Linked DNA regions of Homo sapiens. The protein of the gene in region 1 interacts with the protein of each later gene in a pairwise test. Each region holds a gene or a part of one and is shown on either strand. Other genes may lie near its edges.

What was found.
Region 2: the proteins of MAPK13 (region 1) and ANKLE2 interact in a two-hybrid assay, tested with the Homo sapiens proteins (one study listed by BioGRID and IntAct).

What each region holds. Positions count from the first base shown.
Region 1 is NC_000006.12:36,133,505-36,141,070, forward strand, and holds part of MAPK13 (mitogen-activated protein kinase 13), read left to right. Parts: intron 1-2,248; coding exon 2,249-2,357; intron 2,358-2,514; coding exon 2,515-2,544; intron 2,545-2,979; coding exon 2,980-3,027; intron 3,028-3,151; coding exon 3,152-3,266; intron 3,267-3,374; coding exon 3,375-3,446; intron 3,447-4,860; coding exon 4,861-4,940; intron 4,941-5,197; coding exon 5,198-5,276; intron 5,277-5,374; coding exon 5,375-5,551; intron 5,552-5,789; coding exon 5,790-5,869; 3' UTR 5,870-7,566. UniProt on the Homo sapiens protein: Serine/threonine kinase which acts as an essential component of the MAP kinase signal transduction pathway.
Region 2 is NC_000012.12:132,758,701-132,766,272, forward strand, and holds the start of ANKLE2 (ankyrin repeat and LEM domain-containing protein 2), read right to left. Parts: upstream 3,133-7,572; 5' UTR 3,099-3,132; coding exon 2,918-3,098; intron 2,456-2,917; exon of another isoform or gene 2,377-2,455; intron 1-2,376. UniProt on the Homo sapiens protein: Involved in mitotic nuclear envelope reassembly by promoting dephosphorylation of BAF/BANF1 during mitotic exit.

The DNA of each region.
Region 1 (7,566 bases):
GTAGCTGAGTGAGGTGGCAGAGGTGGAGGAATGGGCAGGTTCCTGCTTGAAATACACGGTAGAGGAAGAACAGATCTTGGGGGAAAGATAACGAACTCCATTTTGGACACTTTACTTTTAAAGAAACTGTGAACATTCCAATGTTTAATCACAGTTGCAAATAAATATGAACCTCAGGAGACGAAGGTCTGGGCTAGGGATGTGGATTTGTGCTGGAATAATCACCGATGGGTTATAGCTGACACCCGGGAACAGATAATTGTAGAATGTGGTAAGATAGTATTGATTCAGATATCAACATGAAAGAGAAGATCCAAGAGGATGAGCAGATGGAAGAAGCTGAGAGGGCCTGATAGGAGGCAGAGGAGAGTCAGCAAAGAATTGAGAGGGAGTTTCAGACTTGGTGAAAGGTTAGATCAGAAGAAAAGGGAGTCATGGTGTGTTTGTCGGGTGTTCACTGGTGACCTTGAGCTGAGCAGTCTGGCAGTAGGAGGGAAGCAGAAACCAGGTTAACTCAGGACTGGGAGGTAAGGCAGTGGGATCCAGGAGTGTGGACCGCCCTTTCTAGAAGTTTGGTGGTGAGAGAGGGAGAAGGGGTGGTCAGTTGAAGAAGCAAAGTCAAGGGAATGTGGTTCTAGCACAGAGAGGCTTCAGGAAGCATGTTGCCAAGATGAAAGAACCAGTGCCCGAGTGGAGGGGAAAGACACAGGAGGGGACTGGGCATGGAGAGGCCCCCAAGGGAGGTGTGTGGTCCGGCAGGAGAGGGCTGCCAAAATCCAGAGTCTCCTGGAGATGCCTCCAGCATGTCCTTTCAAAAACAACAACAACAACAACAACAAAAAACACAACCTATTACATAATTGTTTAAGGTAACATTCATTTTAAAAAAGTTTTAAATTTATTATATTCTAGAGATAGGGCTGGGTTGCCCAGACTGGAGTGCAGTGGCACAAACACAGTTCACTGCAGCCTCCAACTCCTAGGCTCAAGCCATCCTCCCGCCTCAGCCCCCCAAGTAGGTGGGACTACAGATGCATGCCACCATGTCCAGCTTTTTGTTTTGTTTTAATTTTTATAGATATGGGGTCTCACTATGTTACTCATCCTGATCTCGAATTCCCGGCCTCAAGTGATCCTCCCACCTCAGCCTCTTGAGTAGCTAAGACTAAAGGTGCATGCCACCACACCTGGCTAATTTTTTTTTTTTTTTCTGAAAGGTGGGGTCCAGGCCGGGCATGGTGGCTCACGCCTGTAATCCCAGCACTTTGGGAAGCCGAGGCAGGCAGATCACCTGAGGTCAGGAGTTCGAGACCAGCCTGGCCAACATGGCAAAACCCCGTCTCTACTAAGAATACAAAAATTAGCTGGGCGTTCTGGCGTGCACCTGTAGTTGTAGCTACTCAGGGAAGCTGAGGCAGGAAAATCGCTTGAACCTGGGAGGTGGAGGTTGCAGTGAGCCAAGATCACGCCACTGCACTCTAGCCTGGGCGACAGAGCAAGACTCCATCTCAAAGAAAAAAAGAAAGGAAGAAAGAAAGATGGGTCCCTATGTTGCTCAGGCTGGTCTTAAACTCTTCGCCTCAAGCGATCGTCCAGCCTCCATCTCCCAAAGCACTGGGATTGGAGGTATGCCCCTGGCCTATTTTATAATTTTTATTATTTTTTGTCTTTGTCCTGGTCTTTGCTTTTACTGTAACAGTTACATTTTGCTGGCCTTATCCTGTTGTGCAATCCCCTAAGAGGCTGCAGGAGCCTCCCCATCTCCCTCTTCCACCCTCCTGGAAACTGTTGTATTGTTTCCTTCTTGGAAAGGTAGACATATTGTTTGTTTGTGGAGCCATCTCAGCTGGGCATGACCCTCTGAGGGATCAAATATTTGGACAGAAGCCGAAGGAAATACTGGCAGATGTTTCTAACTCCTAGCTGTGGCTTTCCCTGGGGTGTGGAGGAGGGCAAGGAGAGAGTACCTTTGAAGAGCGGGAACACAGTTCCATGTGGCTTTCCTGAGCGCGCTCCAACTGCAGCGCTTACTCCGAGCTCTGCCAGCTGGGCGGCCCGCCACAGGGAGACTGGGAGCCAGGAGCCCAGAGGCCCGTGTGGTGATCTGGCTGGCTGAGGTGGAGTTGAGTTTTTGCACACTGGAGGGTGTCTCTATGACCCCTGTTCTGCCCTGAGGTCCCTCCTCTGAGCTCTGACCTGGGGCTGGGTGGGACCCGGCACTGTTCCAAGAACCCCTCATGCCTTCCAGCTACCTGGTGATGCCCTTCATGCAGACGGATCTGCAGAAGATCATGGGGATGGAGTTCAGTGAGGAGAAGATCCAGTACCTGGTGTATCAGATGCTCAAAGGCCTTAAGGTGGGTGGGGACTTGGAGGCTGGCAGAGGGGACGCCTTGCTGTCTAGACCTGAGGTTTGGGGAGGCTGGAGGGAGCGCACTGTTACAGGTCGGCCAGCCTGAAGTGCCTGGTGTGGAAGCTGGGCCATGGACTCACCCTTCTCTCTCTCCCACATAGTACATCCACTCTGCTGGGGTCGTGCACAGGGTGAGTGCTTTCTCTGCCATGGTCCTCAGAGGCCCCTGTCCCATCCCTGGGTATGGGGTTCTCTGGCAATCAAGGAGTGGGAAAGTTGGAGGGAGGGGACACTGCCCAGGAGCACAGAATGTGGAGTTTTCACACCCAGCCACGGCCCAGGAAGGCCTGCTCAAAAGAGTCACTGTGTCCCAGGGGACTTCATGGGGAATTGCTGCAGACAAAGTGAGCCCTGAGCTGAGTGTTTCAGGCTTCAAGAATCAGGAACATTTTAGAGCTGGGTGGGCCCTGAGAGAACACCTAGTCCAACCCTCATTTTACACATGAAGAAACTGAGGCCCAGAAGGGGAAGGGGCCTGGCTGAGGTCACACCCCTGGGTGGTGGTGGAGCTAGGACAAGCTCCATCTCTGCCTCAGCCTAGCATGCATTCTCTGTCCTCCCCCCAGGACCTGAAGCCAGGCAACCTGGCTGTGAATGAGGACTGTGAACTGAAGGTGAGTGGGCTGCAGGCTCAGCCCAGAGGCGGGATAGGCCCTCCCCCAGGGAAGCCCCTGGAAGCCGCTCCCAGAGCCTCCTCCCCTCAGCAAGTTCCTTTTCTATTTATCCCCTGTGCCATAGATTCTGGATTTTGGGCTGGCGCGACATGCAGACGCCGAGATGACTGGCTACGTGGTGACCCGCTGGTACCGAGCCCCCGAGGTGATCCTCAGCTGGATGCACTACAACCAGACAGGTCAGTGGTCAATGCCTGAGAGGGCGGTCCTGGGGCCATCTGGTCACTCGGTGCTGACTGACTGCTGGGCCCCAGACAGTCCAGGTGACACTCTCCCTCCCTCTGCAGTGGACATCTGGTCTGTGGGCTGTATCATGGCAGAGATGCTGACAGGGAAAACTCTGTTCAAGGGGAAAGATTGTATCCTTTGCTGGAAAAGCCAAACTCCATCTAGGGATTCCTTCCTTCAACAGACACTTTATTTAAATAACTGTCTTTTTTTTCTTAATGTGAGAGTGATACATACTCCCTGTAGAATAATTTGTAAATGCAGATAAGGCTGGACGCAGTGGTTCATGCCTGTAATCCCAGCACTTTGGGAGGCTGAGGTGGAAGGATCCTTTGAGCCCAGGAGTTTGAGACCAGATGTGGCAACATAGGGAGACCCCATCTCTAAAAAAGTTTTTTAAATTAGCCAGACATGGGCCTGGCGCAGTGGCTCATGTCTGTAATCCCAGCACTCTGGGAGGCTGAGGCGGGCAGATCATGAGGTCAGGAGATCGAGACCATCCTGGCTAACAAGGGGAAACCCCGTATCTACTAAAAATACAAAAAATTAGCCAGGCGTGGTGGCAGGCGCCTGTAGTCCCAGCTACTCAGGAGGCTGAGGCAGGAGAATGGCGTGAACCCAGGAGGTGGAGCTTGCAGTGAGCTGAGATCGCGCCACTGCACTCCAGCCTGGGTGACAGAGCAAGACTCTGTCTCAAAAAAAAGAAAAAGAAAAATCCCAGCTACTTGAGAGGCTGAGGTGGGAGGGTTGAGCCTGGGAGGTTGAGGCTGCAGTGAGCTATGATTGTGCCACTGTACTCCAGCCTGGGTGACAGAGGGAGACCCTAACTCAAAAAAAAAAAAAAAAAAAACAAAATGTTGGGTGGGCATGGTGGCTCACACCTATAATCCCAGCACTTTGGGAGGCCATGGCAGGCGGATCACCTGAGATTAGGAGTTCGAGACCAGCCTGGCCAACGTGGTCAAACCCCATCTCTACCAAAAAATACAAAAATTAGCCGGGTGTGGTTCACGCCTGTAATCCCAGCTACTCGGGAGGCTGAGGCAGGAAAATCGCTTGAACCCAGGAGGTGGAGGTTGCAGTGAGCCAAGACTGTGCCACTGCACTCCAGCCTGAGTGACAGAGTGAGACCCTGTCTCAAAAAAAAAAAAAAAAAAAAAATGTAGATAAGCAAAATGATGAAAAATTCTACCACTACGTGGAAAATACATTTTGGCACGGCACACATTAACTGAGTACCTGTGTGTGCAGGGCAGGCCTTTGGTGAGAAGACGAGGAAACAGAAAAGAGTCACTGGGATGAAGGCTGAGAAGTCCACATCCATTTGTTGGGTAGGGACCCCCCTCAGCCTGGCACGTTGGAAAGCTCTCCAGAGCCCTGAGCCCTGAAGAATAAGCCTCCTCCTGAGAGCAGGAGGTGGTTAGGCAGGGCTGGAGCCTGGATGATCAGTTGCCATGGTGCCCGGGTGAAGTGATGGTGGGGTCGCAGGAAGGGCAGTCTCAGACCCACCAGGAGAGCAAGGCTAAGCCTTAACCTGCCACCAAGACCTGGACCAGCTGACCCAGATCCTGAAAGTGACCGGGGTGCCTGGCACGGAGTTTGTGCAGAAGCTGAACGACAAAGCGGTGGGTGGTAAATGGGACCTAGGCTGGCCTGGGCTGTGTGCTTGCCTGACGTGGGCCCAGTGGGCTGCAGGCCTTTGTGGAAGAAGGCTCACCAGCACCTTCCCACAGCATCCTCCTACCCTGGCAGGCACTCTTGTCTTAATCTCACCGTGGACCCTGACCTGAACTTTCAGCCCTGCTCTGAGGCTTTTCTGAAATCCCTGCTCTACACGCTGAGGCCAGAGCCCTAAGGGGTTTGATGCTTTTCTGTCTTCCAGGCCAAATCCTACATCCAGTCCCTGCCACAGACCCCCAGGAAGGATTTCACTCAGCTGTTCCCACGGGCCAGCCCCCAGGGTGAGTCTCAGAGCCCGCTCCCCAGGGGCCTCTCAGCGTATCCCAGAGGGCGGGCTCTCCCAGCCCCTGGTGTGAGGCTCTTGGCTCTGCCCCTGCAGCTGCGGACCTGCTGGAGAAGATGCTGGAGCTAGACGTGGACAAGCGCCTGACGGCCGCGCAGGCCCTCACCCATCCCTTCTTTGAACCCTTCCGGGACCCTGAGGAAGAGACGGAGGCCCAGCAGCCGTTTGATGATTCCTTAGAACACGAGAAACTCACAGTGGATGAATGGAAGCGTAAGAGCTGGGGCCTCGGGCTTCCTCGCCTCCGCCTGCAGCCTCTCTTCCTTGCTTCCTCCATCTTTGTGCCTGGCCTCTGCCAGCCCTACCTGCCACCTCCTTCTTGGTGGGCATTGTCTCCTGGGTGCTTCTTTCTCCTTGAGCTGACTTCGCTCTCCATGCTGTCTCTGAAGGGGGGTGGACTTTCTCGCCACAGCACCTCTTTACGCACCTTAAACCATGCTGCCTTTCTCAGAGCACATCTACAAGGAGATTGTGAACTTCAGCCCCATTGCCCGGAAGGACTCACGGCGCCGGAGTGGCATGAAGCTGTAGGGACTCATCTTGCATGGCACCGCCGGCCAGACACTGCCCAAGGACCAGTATTTGTCACTACCAAACTCAGCCCTTCTTGGAATACAGCCTTTCAAGCAGAGGACAGAAGGGTCCTTCTCCTTATGTGGGAAATGGGCCTAGTAGATGCAGAATTCAAAGATGTCGGTTGGGAGAAACTAGCTCTGATCCTAACAGGCCACGTTAAACTGCCCATCTGGAGAATCGCCTGCAGGTGGGGCCCTTTCCTTCCCGCCAGAGTGGGGCTGAGTGGGCGCTGAGCCAGGCCGGGGGCCTATGGCAGTGATGCTGTGTTGGTTTCCTAGGGATGCTCTAACGAATTACCACAAACCTGGTGGATTGAAACAGCAGAACTTGATTCCCTTACAGTTCTGGAGGCTGGAAATCTGGGATGGAGGTGTTGGCAGGGCTGTGGTCCCTTTGAAGGCTCTGGGGAAGAATCCTTCCTTGGCTCTTTTTAGCTTGTGGCGGCAGTGGGCAGTCCGTGGCATTCCCCAGCTTATTGCTGCATCACTCCAGTCTCTGTCTCTTCTGTTCTCTCCTCTTTTAACAACAGTCATTGGATTTAGGGCCCACCCTAATCCTGTGTGATCTTATCTTGATCCTTATTAATTAAACCTGCAAATACTCTAGTTCCAAATAAAGTCACATTCTCAGGTTCCAGGTGGACATGAATTCCAGGGGGAAATGATTCAACTCACTACAGACAGCTGGGAGGGAGGGGCCCCTTCCTGGGCCCCGTGCTGAGGCCTTGTGCTCTGTGAAGGAACCCAATGTGTTTGGCTGCTAAATTAAGGGAGTTGCAGAGAGAGCTGCAGCTGGTGCGATTGCATTCAGGTTATTTTGGGTGAGTGATAAGCAATCAAGATATGAAACAACAGCAGGCTCGGAGACTGCGAGCTGCACAGGCAGAAATGGGCTCTTGCCTGGCTTGATGGCAAACCGTTCTGCTCCCTTTGGGAGATGGCACAGCTCTCCAGAGCTTTGACCTGACAGTGGCTAGAACCTCTCTGTTTTTATCTGAGAAACTTTGGCAGAACAAATTTCCATGTGCACAAGCTGTCGGGCACAGTGGGTCTCAAATTTCCTTGTGCACCAGGGGACTTGTTAAAATGCAGATTCCTGGGCCCCACCCCAGGGCTTGTGACTCAGCAGGTCTGCAGTTGAGACCTTAGAATGTGCATTTGAATGAGGACCTCTCGCCCTGACCCAAGCCTAGTGATTCTGATGGATATCAGACCATAGTTCGAGACATTTAGTGGATTTCAGTCATACTTGATTTGTTGGGAGGCCTAAATCAAAAACCTATAGGAGGAGACTGGGGGGCTTCAGATGGAGTTTCACACTCATCTTACAGGTGTTAAAACTGAGGCTCAGAAAGCTTTTTTTTGTTTGTTTGTTTGAGACAGGGTCTGGCTCTGTCACCCGGGCTGGAGTTCAGTGGCACAATTACATCTTACTGCAACCTCAGCCTCCTGGGCTCAAGCCATCCTCCCACCTCAGCCTCCTAAGTAGCTGGGACTACAGGTCTGTGCCACCCAGGTGCACCAGGACTGCAGGTGGCTAATTAAAACATTTTTTTTCTTTTTTGTATAGGCGGGGTTTCTCTATGTTGCCCAGGCTGATCTTGAACTTCTGGACTCAAGTGATCCTCCCACTTTGGCCTCCCAAAGTGCTGG
Region 2 (7,572 bases), on another chromosome or scaffold:
TTTTAGTGGAGACTGCCTCACCATGTTGGCCAGGCTGATCTTGAACTCCTGACCTTGTGATCCACCTGCCTCGGCCTCCCAAAGTGCTGGGATTACAGGCATGAGCCACCGCAACCGGCCAAGTACACAACTTTTGAGACTGGCTTTTCCTATTCAGCATAATGCCCTTGAGATCCACCCACGTGGCAGAGTGGATCGCTGCGGAGTGGCACCCCGGGGCACCCACGTGGCAGAGTGGATCACGCAGTGTGGCACCCCGGGGCACCCACGTGGCAGAGAGGATCGCTGCGGAGTGGCACCCCGGGGCACCCACGTGGCAGAGTGGATCGCTGCGGAGTGGCACCCCGGGGCACCCACGTGGCAGAGAGGATCGCTGCGGAGTGGCACCCCGGGGCACCCACGTGGCAGAGTGGATCACGCAGAGTGGCACCCCGGGGCACCCACGTGGCAGAGAGGATCGCTGCGGAGTGGCACCCCGGGGCACCCACGTGGCAGAGTGGATCATGCAGAGTGGCACCCCGGGGCACCCACGTGGCAGAGAGGATCGCTGCGGAGTGGCACCCCGGGGTATCAGTGTGCAAGTTTAACCATTTGAGTTATTTCAGTTTCTGGTAATTACAAATAAAGTTGCTATGAACATTAAATATGGGTTTTTGTGTGAAAATAGTTTTCATTTGTCTAATAAAAGCTCAGGAATGCAGGGCAGGTTTAACTTCCTAAAAACCTGCCAGGCTGATTCCCAGAGTAGCTGCACCACTTACCGTCCCCACCTGCAATGCACGAGGCCCAGTTTCTCTAAATCTCTGCTGACTATATATATGTATACTATATGTGCTATATGATATACACGTATCATATGCCATGATATACGTATATTATACATCATATATAAAAACATATTTTTATATAAAATAAATCAGTATTTTTTTATTTCAGCCATTCTCAAAACACCACCCTCACCCGCCGCCACCTTGTCCGCAGCTCTGCCTGGATGATGCCGCTGGTGACAGTAACAGCACTCAGAGGTGCTTAACACATACCAAGTGCTGCACTTACCCAACTCCCAAAAAAGCCTAACCAGGTATCACTATCATCCCCATTCCTAAAAGAGCAGGCTGAAAACAGGTTAAGCCCACAGCAATAAGTGGTAGGGCCCGGTGCGATGGCTCACACCTGTAATCCCAGCATTTTGGGAAGCTGAGGCAGGTGGATCACCTGAGGTCAGGAATTCGAGACCATCCTGGCCAACATGGTGAAACCCCGTCTCTATTAAAAATACAAAAATTAGCCGGGCGTGGTGGCAGGCGCCTGTAATCCCAGCTACTCGGGAGGCTGATGCAGGAGAATCGCTTGAACCCGGGAGGCGGAGCTTGCAGTGAGCCGAGATCGCGCCACTGCACTCCAGCCTGGGCCACAGGGCGAGACTACATTTCAAAAAAAAAAAAAAAAAAAAGTGGTAGGGCCGAGACACAAACTCACACAATTGGACAGGAATCCCCACTCAATCATCAGAAAGCACCTCTCCGCAGTGACTAACAGTCTGACAATTTAGAGTAAAAACAAACTCAGTTTCTCCCACTAGTCTTGCAACATGCTTCGGACACCAGGTATGTGGGGATTTTCTCCCCACAAATCACGCAGGTCGTCAGTTCTGCAGTGGACACAGGCTGGGTGTCGTCTGTCATCCTAATTCAGTCATCTATTCTGACAGCGTCTTCCTGGAGATACCAGCAGACCCCCACAGGTTAACGGCTCAGCCCCGCAAGACTGCCCCCCACTTCCAGTGCCCAGGTTGTTTGACCTGCGCTTGGGACCGACGGGGCGTAACCCGGTGACCTCCTCAGGTTGCGGTAATTTGCTAGAGTGGCTCCCGAACTCACAGACATGTTTTACTTACACTTACCAGCAGAGTATAAAGGATTACAAAGAATACAGGTGAAGAGATGCGTGACGTAAAACCGGGGGGAAGCGCTTGGAAATTCAGGGCCTCTCTGGGCACCGCCTCCAGGAACCCCCACGTACTATCTGGAAGCTCCCTGAACCCAGCCCTTTTGGGTTTTTACAGGAACTTCATTTCACAGGCGTGATTCATCAGCCACTGGTGATCAACGCAACCTTCACCCCTCTCTCCTCCCCAGAGGTTGGGGGTGGGGCTGAAAGTCCCCAGAACCTCTAACCCTGCCTTGGTCTTTCCTGCGACCAGCCCCATCCAGAAGCTCCCTAGGGGCTGCCGGCCACCAGTCCACTCAGCCTACAAAAGACATCACTTTGGAGGTTCCCGGGATTTCAAGAGTTGTATGCCAGGAAAAGGGGATGGAGCTGAAATACACAGTTCACTGTATCAGTTACCTCAAACTTAAAACGACCAAAACCCACCTCTGATCTCCACATCACCCAGACCCGACAGTCTACCGCAAAGCAATAAATGGCCACCTTCTCCCTCTTCCTCTGGCCCCAAACCCCTGAGTTACATTTGCCTTTTCCGTCTCTGCCTTATGTTCCATGACCAGTAACCGCAATGGCTTCACGTTCCAAACACATCCGGGACCCAGGGGTTTCCTCCCCGCGCCGCCCTCCTTTGGGCCATCCCTCCCCAGGTCTCGAGAGACCGCAGCAAGAGTCTCCGCTAACGCCTCGCCGGGCCCCCGCCGCCTTCCCCGGAGGCTGCTCCAGGGCCCGGGAAAGCTCTCACCCCCGAACCCGGCGTGGCCCCTCCGCCCCCGGCCCGGGAAGCCAAGTCCCCGCAACTGCCCTTTCCGCGGCCGGAATGGCCTTTCCCGACCGGCCCTGGTTTCCCCGGCCGCCTCGCCCAACTGCTGCCGGCTCCAGGGGCGCGGCCGGGACCCCAGGCCCGAGGAGGGCGTCGGGGCGGGGAAGGGGCCAGGGTGCGGGGACCCAGCGACCGCCTGGGCCTTACCTGAGGCGGGGGCGGCGGCCGCGCTTGGCGGAGGAACTGGGGTCCCGCTGCGGCCCAGACCTCCCGGCCGCGGGCCCAGCCGCCGCACCAGCCACCGCACAGCGATCAGCAGCACCGAGGCGCCCAGCAGCTCCCAGGCCAGCGCCGCCCACTCGGCCGCCGCCAGCCGCGGCCACAGCATCGCCGCCGCCCGGGCCGCAGCCGCCGAGAAGCCCGCGCCCCGCGCCGCGCCCGTCCCAGGACCCCGCGCCGGGCTGCCCGCGCCCTGCCTGACGGCGCCGCGCTCGAGGCGGCCGGGGCGGCGCGGGGGACACGGACGGCGGCCCCGCTCGCGGAGGCCCGGCGAGGGCGCGGCCCCGGCCCTGGGACCCAAGCGGGCGGGAACGGGCGAGCGGACGGGCGGGCGCGGCAGGCGGGGCGCGGGCAGCCCGACGCGGGGTCCTGGGACCGGCGAGGCGCGGGGAGCGCAATGTGCTGGCGGGGGCCGGGGCTGGGGCCCGGGGAGGCCACCAGGGCGGGGCCGGGCGCGGGGCGGCGCTTCTTCGCGCCTCCCGGCCCCGGCCTGGCGTCCGTGGGGCGCTGTGCGTCTCCGAGAACGAAGCGGCCTCCGGGTTCGTGTGCTCCGAGCCCGAGTACTGTTTGCGGCCGTCGTCCCGTCCTGGAGCAGGAGTGAGGAAGCGCCTCTCACTCCCCCGCGAACCCGCAGAACAGGCCGCCGGCGCTATGGAGACCGGCGGAGCTTCCCGCTCCTTCACCAAGGGGCCCTGACGCGCAGTTGAAAGCGCGGATTTTGCCGGGCGCGGCGGCTGCGTCCGGAGTCCCAGCGCCTTGGGAGGCGAGGCGGGAGGATCCCCACGGCCCGGGAGCTCGAGACCAGCCCGGGCAAATATTTTGAAAGTCATGGTAAAAGCCGCAATTACTTTTGCACCAACCTAATAGTGAGACCCTGTCTCGAAAAAGGGAAGGAGGATTTTACTGTATGTAATTTAGATGTTTTATTTATTTTTTGATGCGGTGTCTTGCTCTGTCGCCCAGGCTGAAGTGCAGTGGCGCGATCTCGGCTCACTGCAGCCTCCGCCTCCTGGGCTCAAGCGATTCTCCTGCCTCAGCCTCCCAAGTAGCTGGGATTACAGGTGCCCACCACCACGCCTGGCTAATTTTTGCATGTTTAGTAGAGACGGGGTTTCCTCATGTTGGCCAGACTGGTCTCGAATTCTTGATGTCAAGTGATCCACCAGCCTCGGCCTCCCAAAGTGCTGGGATTACAGGCGTGAGCCACCGCGCCCCGCCTAATTTAGATATTATTAAATGAAAATGAAAGACCTGAAAAATATAATTGATATCCTTGGTTAAAAACATAATTGATCTGAGCGAGGTGGCTCAGGTCTGTAGTCTCAGCAACTCTGGAGCGTGAGGGGTGATGGTAGTTTCAGTCCGGGAGTTCGAGGCTGCCATGAGCGTGATCTCGCCTGTGAATAGCCACTGCACGCCAGCCTGACCAACATAGCAAGACCCCATCTCTTAAAAAATATCATTGGATGGTACTAATGGTTGGTTGGGCACTACAGAAGAAAGGGTCAGTAATTTTGAAGATGGATGAAATGGAAATTCAAACCACGATGAGATGCTGCTTGAAATCCACCAGAATGGCTAAAATTTAAAAATTGGCAATATCAAATTTTGCTGGCAAGAGCAAACACTGAGTTAACCACCTTGGAAAATAGTGAGGCAGTTTCTTTCAAAGTTAAACGTACACCTCTGCTGTATTCTGAGTGTCTGTCCCCAGCGTTCGTATGTTGAAACCCTAACCCCCCTTGGCCGGGCGTGGTGGCTCACGCCTGTAATCCCAGCACTTTGGGAGGCCGAGGCGGGCAGATCACGAGGTCAGGAGATCGAGACCATCCTGGCTAACACGGTGAAACCCAGTCTCTACTAAAAAATACAAAAAATTAGCCGGGCATGCTGGAAGGCACCTGTAGTCCCAGCTACTCGGGAGGCTGAGGCAAGAGAATGGTGTGAACCCGGGAGGCGGAGCTTGCAGTGAGCCAAGATCGCGCCACTGCACTCCAGCCTGGGTGACAGAGCGAGACTCTGTCTCAAAAAAAAAAAGAAACCCTAACCCCCAAGGTGATGGTATTAGGATGTGGGGCTTGTGGGAGGTGATAGGTCATGGGACAGAGCCTTATATACTTCCCTTAGAAGAGGCCCAAGAAGGCTGGGCACGGTGGCTCACACCTGTAATCCCAGCACTTTGGGAGGTCGAGACAGGAGGATCGCTTGAGCCCAGGAGGTGGAGACCAGCCTGAGCAATATGGCGAGACGCTGTCTGTGCTAAAAATTTAAAAAATTAGCTGAACGTGGTGGCACACGCCTTGAGGAGGGAGGATTACTTGAGCCTGGGAGGTCAAGGCTGCAGTGAGCGAAGATTGCGCCATTGCCCTCCAGCCTGGGAGAGAGAGACCCTGTCTCAAAAATAAATAAATAAACAAGTACGTACATACATACATAAAAAGGTAATTATGTAAGTCCTCGTTACGGAGCCTCCATACATGAAGGGCTTTAGAGCCGATTTGTTAAATGGTCAGCTGTAGTCAGCTGTTGACACCCAGCGTCCACTCTCCATTAAGTTATTAAGAGCTTTTTCTTAGTTACAGAAGCTCTCAGTGGGCTGTGGAGACGCTGCCGTCTCCTGAACACATCCAGCGACCACATGACTAAGCAAAGGCAGCGGAGAGTGGACGGACGGTGATGGACGCGGCCACGGAGCCCAAGCGCCCACAATGCGCATTCCTGTCTTTTCTCTCCCCGCTCACCTCAGAGCGGGACGGAAGGTGGGACTGGGAGAGCTGTTCTCGGGCAGGTGGACGCTGTGGATTAGCGGAGAGGGAAGGCACTTTCGTTCTCGGCACCGTGAGGCTGTCCTGGTCAATCCTGTTTTCATGCTTGAGGGTCTCTGGTGCAGCAGCTCCACCAGCCTTGACACCAGGACTTCTGTGGAATCCAGGTAAGCAGCCAGGGTCCTGATAGGGCCATGCCCTCACCCCCATGTAATGCATCCACTCCCAGTTAAATGAGAAAGGAACAATCACAGGAAAACATGGAGAACAACTCCACTGTTCAGAAGCCAACCCTATATTAGCTACTGTTTAGGTAGAAATGAAAAACTTTGAGACGTAAACTCCTGCAGGTAGAAGTAGATTTCCGGTGAATGAACAAAATGAAGCTTATTAGAATCAATGGCCTCTTCTGAGAGCCGTTCTGAATTTTTTTTTTTTTGAGACGGAGTCTTGCTATGTCGCCCAGGCTGGAGTGCAGTGGCGCGATCTCGGCTCACTGCAAGCTCCGCCTTCCGGGTTCACGCCATTCTCCTGCCTCAGCCTCCCCAGTAGCTGGGACTACAGGCGCCCGCCACCACGCCCGGCTAATTTTTTGTATTTTTAGTAGAGACGGGGTTTCACCGCGTTAGCCAGGATGGTCTTGATCTCCTGACCTCATGATCCGCCCACCTCGGCCTCCCAAAGTGCTGGGATTACAGTCGTGAGCCACTGCGCCCAGCCCTGATTTTATTCCTAGTTGTAATTTAACTTCTACTTCATTTCTGATCCGAGATCACAAAGGGGCCATGTGAGCCCCAGGGACTGAGCGGAAGCTGAAGTCTCACAGCTCGAGGATTTACTCCCAACGTGCTGGGAAAAGCCCTAGATGAGCAGGGAGTAGCTAATTTCTTTTCTTCCCCTTCTTTTTCAATATTAATTGGATTTCCTTAAAGGCCGTGTGTCTATTAAGTTTGTTATCAATGGCTATTTAGCACTTGTAGAAACCCAGCCGTATGTTACATACAGTAGGGTCTAGTCAGGAAAACAGCCCAGGCCAAGTGGTTCAGCAGAGGAAATGCAGGGGCAGGGACGGCAACCGCAGGACGCCAGAGGCCCTCAGGTGGAGATAACGGCCCTGAGTGGAAACGTACAGGCTCCAGAACCTGGTGGGACCTGGGCTGATGCAGGGGAATGAGGGGTTTCAGGGGAGCTACGGCCGTGACCATCAGACGCCCAGCTGCAGGGACAGGCAGGTGGCGGGGGGGGGGGGTCTGTTTTCTGGGTGAAGATGGGGGCATTTTTGAAAGCATTGGGAAGATACACTTGACGTATCTATCCAGTCTCCAGAAATGCACGTTTAACGCTCAGAAGGAAATCTTGCAACAATTGAAGTGCTGTGGGAGGCTCCGCGAGCAGAGACAAGATTGTCCTTCTCTGGGTTTCAGGGCATTTAGACATGACACTCAAAAATATTTCACTGTGGGCCGGGCGCGGTGGCTCATGCCTGTAATCCTAGCACTTTGGGAGGCAGAGGCAGGTGAATCACCTGAGGTCAGGGGTTCAAGACCAGCCTGAACAAAATGGTGAAACCCCATCTCTACTGAAAATACAAAAATTAGCCGGGCGTGGTGGCGGGAGCCTGTAAGCCCAGCTACTCTGGAGGCTGAGGCAGGAGAGTCACTTGAACCTGGCAGGCAGAGGTTGCAGTGAGCTGAGATCGAGACACTGCACTCCAGCCTGGGCAACAAGAGTGAAACTCCGTCTCAAAATATATCTATTTCATGTGAAGGTGAAATCCAACCCCGACGATGTGTAGAAAAGCCCAGCAATCTCCCGCAA